2 linked regions of the Homo sapiens genome follow. The protein of the gene in region 2 interacts with the protein of the main gene of each other region in a pairwise test. Each region holds a gene or a part of one and is shown on either strand. Other genes may lie near its edges.

Region 1 (3,819 bases), on a different chromosome or scaffold from region 2:
ATTGACAAATGGTATCTAATTAAACGTAAGAGCTTCCGCAGAGCAAAAGAAAGCATCAACAGAGTAAAAAGACTATCTAAAGAATGGGAAAGAAATATTTGCAAACTATGCATCTGACAAAGGTCCAATATGCACCATCTATAAGAAACTTTAATTTACAAGAAAAAAAGCAAAGAACCCCATTAAAAAGTGGGCAAAGGACATGAACAGACACTTCTCAAAAGAAGACATACACATGGCCAATAACCATATGAAAAAAAAGCTCAACATCACTATCATTAGAGAAATGCAAATCAAAACCACAATGAAATATCATCTCACACCAGTCAGAATGGCTATTATTAAAAAGTAAAAAAATAACAGGTGCTGTCAAGGTTGTGGAGAAAAAGAAATGTTTATACACTGGTGATGAGAGTATAAATTAGTTCAACCATTGTAGAAAGCAGTGTAGTGATTCCTAAAAGACCTGAAAACAGAACTACCATTTGACCTAGGAATCTCATTATTGGGTATATACCCAAAGGAATATAAATCATTCTGCCATAAAGACATACCCGCAAGTATGTTCATCGCAGCACTATTCATAATAGCAAAGACATGGAATCAACCTGAATGCCCATCAATGGTAAACTGGAAAAAGAAAATGTGATACATATACACATACATATACATATACATGAAGGTGCCAGATTTTTTGCATTTTTGTGTTTTTTGTTGGTGATTTTGCTGTTTAAAGGGTCCCAGTGCCTAGTGATGAAGTGCTATTTAGTGTTCCTAAGCACAAGAAGGCTGTAACACACCTCATGGAGAAAATGCATGTCTTAGATAAGCTTTGTTCAGACGTGAGTTATAGTGCTGTTGGGTGTGAGTTTAATGTTAATGAATCAACCGTATATATTAAATAAGGTGTCTTTAAACAGAAACATACATGAATCAAACTTATGTATTGATCAGTTGACAAAAATGTGGCCAGAGATTAGTGGGAACCTAACCCTGTATTTCCTCTAAGACTAGTGGTTCAGTATTCACTAATTCAGTGTTTGTGGTGACTTTATAGTCCTAATTACTGTCAATAATGAGAACCGACTATAAATAGATTAGGTCAAACGCTCAGTGATTAACTTGCAAATGTTCAAATTGCCCATAAAAACACAACTGTAAAAATAATTGTTATGAAAACACAACTGTAAAAATAATTGTTAATACATTTATGTTTAGATAACATTTTATCATTTCTCACTGTTGGTACAATTGTGAAACTGCCTATGATATATAAGACCTCAGACACCTAAAAAGCAAAGAGATAAAAATATGTTGGAACGGGAGAATATCTCAAAGATGGTCTAGCACCTCTACTTTTGAAGCTATTTTTCTCTATTGCTTTGGAATGGCACTGATGCCATGGCTCCTTTCTTTACTTCCTTCAGGCCTCTATTCATATGTCATCTTATCACTGAGGCATTCTCTGATCCGCCTCTATAAAGAGCCCCTCAACTTCCATTCCCTTTACTCAGCTTTATTTTCCTCCATTGCTGTTATCATCATCTGACATATAACCAATCTATTTATTTGCTATTGCTTATCTCCTCCAACAAGATTGGAACCTCTATAGGGGCAAGTACCTATAACATGCAAGGAAAGGAGAAATGGTGCACTATTAGCTTGTCATAGTCATCTGAAAAATATCAAGTACCTTCCTGAAAACATCTGGCACCTAGAACAGTGCATGGAACAAAGCAGGCATGCAAATAAATATCTGTTAAACAAACTACTAAATGAAAACAATAATGGATTCATAGGAGCTCAGTGCATGGTAAAAATTAGTCACATATGGCACTAGGTATCCTGGAATAGGGACATAAAATACTTCAGAAACTATATCTTTGCTGCTAGAAATATTTTTTTAACTAAGACAAATTTGGAATTGACTTCCTAATTCCTACACTTTGTAGTAAAGAAAGGCCACCTATATCCTCTATGCATGTAACTTTAATAAAAGTTTCCTTTGTATTAAAAAATCCAAACTTACGAAATAGAGGACTTTTTACATATAGAAGAGGTTTTTTCATTTAAAAATGGTTTCATTTCAGAAATTCTTTAGATGGTAAGCTTTCCTAGAATATAGCAAGTATCATTTACCAAAAATATATGAGCTACACAAAAAATTTTAGGCTCATATCTGCTAATAGAAGTAGTGCTATTTTTGTAAACTCACACTTAAGATAAAACGTTTAATCCCTCTTCCATACTTACATCCCAGCAGGGATGCTATTCCCCTACTCCCTGTTTGAACTGCCATTTTAACCTGGTTTCTTACCAAATTATTCAGCTATGATGAGAGTTTGATTTTGAGTGAATAAGTATTAATATCATTCTGAAAAAATTATGTTACTATTAGTGTTGGCACATATTAGCACATACACACATGCAAATACCTAGCCATTCATAATAATTCATGCAGGACAGATTACCAATGTCCTCCCCTTACCCTAATAAATGAAATGTATCCTTCTATAAATTAGAATGATGCCTCAGACCCCACAACTTTCAAAAATATATGCTATACCTGTGTGAATTGGTCACAGTCAACAACGCGGAAAGTTTTGCCATAAATTGTGATGTTTATTCCTCGATTTAGGTCTTTCCAATGGTAATGGTCACCCCGGTCATTCTTGGCTAGCCGCTGGCGTTTTATTAACTTGCCTTGAAGGATTCCAGAATTTTCTACAACAGGCTCTATGACAGACATGCTGTCATCTTCTAGATAATAGTAAATGTTCACCTGACGGATCCTATACTGTTCCTCAGTTGACATAGGAACATCTTCTTGGAAATAGGCATCAAATTTCAGTACCTATAACATACAAGGAAAGGAGAAATGGTGTACTATTAGCTTGTCATAGTCATCTGAAAAATATCAAGTACCTTCCTGAAAACAGAACCACACAGGGAGATTTTAACACTCATCACTTCTATCCTGTAAATCTTGATACTCTAAAACTACAGATACTGCAAACTATAGTCCATGGGACAAATCTAACCTGCCACCTGTTTTTTTTATGACCTGCAAGCTAAGAGTGGGTTTTACATATTTAAATGGTTTAAAAAATTTTAAAAAATGTTTCATAACACATGGAAATTATAAAAATTTAAATTTTCAATCCACAAATAATTATGTAAATAATTTACGCTTTTTTGTTAACAGCTGCTCTCCCATTACAAGGGAAGAGTTGAATAGTTGTGACAGAGATACACAGACTAAATTGTGTCCCCCTCATCCCCAAAATTCATATGTTGAACCCCTAACCCTCAATGTGACTATATTTGGAGACAGGATCCTTAGGAGGTAATTAAGGTTAAACCAGATCTTAAGGATAGAGGTATGCCACCTTTAAGTCTAATCCCATAGAACTGGTTGCCTTAGAAGAGAAGAAGAGAAAGAGAGTTACTTCCCTCCCCTAACTCCCACATGTACACACCAAGGTAAGGCCACATGAAGACATAGCAAGAAGACCGCTGTATGCAAGCCAGGAAGAGAGCCCTCACCAGAATTCAAACCAGCTGGCACCTTGATCTTGGACCTCCAACCTCCAGAACTGTGAGAAAATAAATTCTATTATTTAAACCACTCAATCTGTGGTATTTTGTTGTGGCAGACTACGCAGGCTAAAACCACTGCAATGGCCAAAATATACGCTAACTGCCCTTTACAGAAAAAGTTTGCTGACATCTGCTTTAAATACTCACAATGTGTATAAACTATTTATTGCATATGTTCCTTGGTGAGAATACATCTTAAAGGACTTAACTCTACTAGCT
Region 2 (3,919 bases):
TGCAGCTGAGGTTTGAGAAGCCCCGTGCTGGAGGAGTGTGCTCTCCAAAGCCAGTCTCGTGGCATTTCTAAGGCCATCTCCCGCAATGCTTCCATACAGCCAGTATAGGGAAAGGGTGAGTGGCAAGATTACAGAGACTTTCCTAAAGCCATCAGCAAGATAGGAATCCCTCGAATAATAAATCAAGAATTGCTTTTTCCCAGCCACCCCTAAGTAGACTGTAGTAGTCAAGACTTGGCAATTGTTGGATAAAGATGGAGATTACTACTGAACCAGTTCCTTCCTGTTTCTTCCTAACTAGACACTCAGAGTTAGCCACTCAGTGACACTGTGATATGGACTAGCCATTTGAATATTCTATGGCTGAGATTCCTTCCTCTGTAAAACGGGTCCAACATCACCTACCTGTGAGGGTCAGAGAAGCTAATGTATGCAGAACCCTGAGTAGAAGCCTGGGGCAGAGTGAGCTGTGGTGACAGTTCATACATCTAACCAGGGGTTCCGGGCTCCATCCTCCCCCAGGGAGCGAGGTGGGAGGATCTGCGGCCTGAGGACAATTGAGTGGGGAAGGAGGTGAGCTGGTTTCATCTAGGGTACCATGTTTTTTAAAGAAGGCTATTTTCCAATCCAAATAGTCTGTGGGCATCAGGCTTCACTGGTGGTGACAAAAGAGAGAGAAAGGAAAGAAGGGACACCCAGTGCCGCCTGCCATTGGGTACTGAGAACCACACTTTAAAACAAAAAACAAAAAAAACTATATAAAGGCAAGATGACACTTCAGAAGACCCCACATTTAAACTTTGTCCTTGGGACCCAAACAGTATAGAGTAGTAAGACAATGACCACCAGTGAGACAGGGACCCCAGGCATTTGGCAGTGTACATGGTTTCTTTTGTCCAGGGCAGGATTACAAACAGGAGTGTGAGGATGAAATCATGCAGCAAAAAACACTGTCAGGGTCAAGGCAGACGTGATGTCTTAGCACTGACGTCCCATCACAGAATTGTGGAACCATTTCTGCAAAGCTGAAGGAGAACTAGTCCCATGCAACTTTTCCCAACTCACAGACATGTCTCCTGAGGACCAGAAAGGTTGCTGGCCTGCAGAGGCACACAGCTGGTGTGCCTGCAGAGGCCCACAGCGGAGAACAATCATTAGCTGTGCTCCGTTTCTCCCTTCCATTAAGGAGTGCTGGGGTGAGACGCAAATTTTAAGCTTCTACCCATAGGCCAGGTAAACAAAGGGCGGCCTCCCGCCCGCCCCGTTCCTGCCTCGGCCATCCCTTGCAGCACAGCTGAGGGCTTGAAGGAGGATCCATGACTCACACTTTTCTTGCCGCGGAGAATTAACTCCAAGATAACATTACCCATGTGGGAAAAAAAAGCAAGCCATCAAGGAAGAAAGTTCACTTCGCGCCCCTCTCCACCGAGCCTCCTTACCTTCCTCATTTAAAATCCACGGCAGAGAGGCCAACACGGAGTCAAAGCCGCAAGTGCTCTCTTCAAAGGCACAGGACCCAGCGGGCAGGTCGAGGGCACCGGCGAGCTGCAGGGCTGCGGGCACAAAGCGAGTTTCAGTTCGAGCTCCACCCAGGAGCCTTTGCACCAACTCGGGGAGCCCCAGGGGGACTACCTGGTGAAAGTGGGGGAAAGACGAGCGGGAGGGGGCGGGAGAGGGATGCAGTACCTGTCCCCCAGCATCCCCGGGCGCCTCCACTGAGCGACCCCACGCCCACCCCCACCCCCACCCCAGGCTTGGCCAGGGGAGGGAGTTAGCGGCTGCGGAGGATCAGGAGGCGCCCTCGGATGGCCCAGCCCAGCACGGTGAGCCGGACCCCCGGGGGCAGCAGGAGCGGGGGCGAGTCGTCAGAGCGCCCCCGGGGTTGTCCCGGGGTCCAGGCCTTACCTTGCAACGCCAGGAGGACGCCCCTTAACAGCATGGTCGCGTTTCAGGGAGGATGACTAGGAAGGGGTGCAAGTTGCCAGCCCGCTGGGACTGGCTGCTCCTAGTGAAAGGGATCGTGGGAGGCGGGGGCGCCGGGGACCCAAGGAGGGAGAAGTCGAGAGGCAAAGCTTGCGCTCTGAGCTGCCCAACTTTGCAGAGCGGCTCCCGGAGCCGAGCGGTATGCTGGAAGGTGCTCGAATGGAGAGCGCCAGCGCCCCGGCGCTGAGCAGCAGCCTCAGGTCAGACCGCGGCCCAGCTGGTCCTGGGCGACGATGGGGCTGGACAGGGAGGAGACAACTGCACACTTTGAAAGGCCAGCCACGACTGGCTGGGAGAGGAGAGGTCGGCCCGCAGTGCCTTCGCTCAGGATTTTAAAGCTTGGGACCAGAGCCCTTGCAGACACTTGGAAGGGGCAGGCCTTCCAGGAGTCCCTCCGCTGGGTTGGGACCCGAGGCTCCCGCCCCGCCCAGCCGCGGTGGGAACTCGCTTATTTCTGGGGACAGCTTCCCTGCATCTGGCATGTCAGTCCCGCAGGGCTGGCCCTAATTTTAACTTCTTCTCCCCAGAATGAAAGAGGGTGGAATTCTCCAAGGACAGCCTGGAGGAAAATTTGGAAACGGTTGGGTGGAATAAGCTTTATATCTAAGGAGTTTCAGCGTTTACGGTCCAGCAATGCTAACCCTGGAATACCACCCCCACTTTTTTTAGCCGGTGGAATGTCTGGCATGCCTGGTGCTCAGCATTCCCTCCGTCCGGTGAAATGGGGGCATTCCTTCTCTCCAAAGAGCCATGATAGATTGATTAATGGGAGGCTTTACACTGGGAGGGGGTTGTTGGGGAGGGAGTTACTTCTGAGGAAGCTGTTTGCTTTGGGCACTAAGTGGGTCTCCAACAATATTCTTTTCTTGTAAAGAGTTCTTCTTCCTCCCCTCCTCTTCCTCCTCCTCCTCCTCCTTTCTCCCATTTATAATTTTGTGCAGGCAATTTTGTGAGGAGGGCAGTGGTTTTAAAACCTGAGGGTGCATCAGAATCTGCTGAAGGGCCTCACCCTCCGTTTCCGATCCAGTAGCTCTGGAGTGGGCCTGAGAGGCTGCACGTCCCTAATAAGTTTCCAGAGGCTGCTGCTGCCGCAGCGGGTTTGGAACAATACTTTGAGGACCACTGGCCTAACAAACTCCAGTTGAGCCATCAGTTCAACCTGCTCCCATGCCTTCACCTGGCTTCCAGACCGCTGGGTTTCCTGGTCTTTCATTGGCCGCCGCTTCTCGGCCTCTTTGCGTTACCTCTGTAACCCCTTAACATGAGAGTGCCTCCAAGTTCTTCCCTGTCACTCCTGTTTCTTTCTCTATCCAGCCCCTCAATGCTGTCCTCAAGTCTCATAGTTTTAGATACCAATGATAGCCTGATAACTCCCACATTTATATTTCTAACCCAGACTACTCACTAACGCCAGACTCTTCGATCTCATTGCCACCTCAACATTTCCAATCGGATGCTTCAGAGCTATTTCATACTTAACAGGTCCCAACATGAAGGCTGCATATTTCTTGCCAAACCTGCCCGTCCCCTGTGTCTTCCTCATCTCAGTAAAAGAACTATTTTCCTCCAGTTGTTCAGGAGAGAAAACTTGGAGGCATCTTCAGCTCATCCGTTCCTGTCAGACATTGCCAATTTCTATCAGCTCAGGATTCAAAACACAGCAGATGCTGACCATGCTCTGTGCCCATGGTGGTGATGCCTTGGTTGGTCCAAGCTGCCCTTGCCATCAACCTGGGATACCGCAGTGGCCTCCTGACCACGGTCTCCCTTCATTTTCTGCCCTGCCCACCCTACTCTATTCTGAACACACTAGTCAGGGTTATCCTTTTAATACAGAAATTGGGCCATGTCACTCCTTAGCTCAAGACCCAACAAGTTCCCAAGTCATTTAGTAAAGTCCAAAGTCTTCACGATGACCAACCAGGCCCTATAGGAC

Evidence for each region.
Region 1: the proteins of MAMDC2 (region 2) and EFHC1 interact in binary tests that used the Homo sapiens proteins (3 or more experiments, as listed by UniProt).

What each region holds. Positions count from the first base shown.
Region 1 is NC_000006.12:52,437,339-52,441,157, reverse strand, and holds part of EFHC1 (EF-hand domain-containing protein 1), read right to left. Parts: intron 2,855-3,819; coding exon 2,567-2,854; intron 1-2,566. UniProt on the Homo sapiens protein: Microtubule inner protein (MIP) part of the dynein-decorated doublet microtubules (DMTs) in cilia axoneme, which is required for motile cilia beating.
Region 2 is NC_000009.12:70,042,218-70,046,136, reverse strand, and holds the start of MAMDC2 (MAM domain-containing protein 2 isoform 1 precursor), read right to left. Parts: upstream 2,290-3,919; 5' UTR 1,940-2,289; coding exon 1,906-1,939; intron 1,554-1,905; coding exon 1,440-1,553; intron 1-1,439.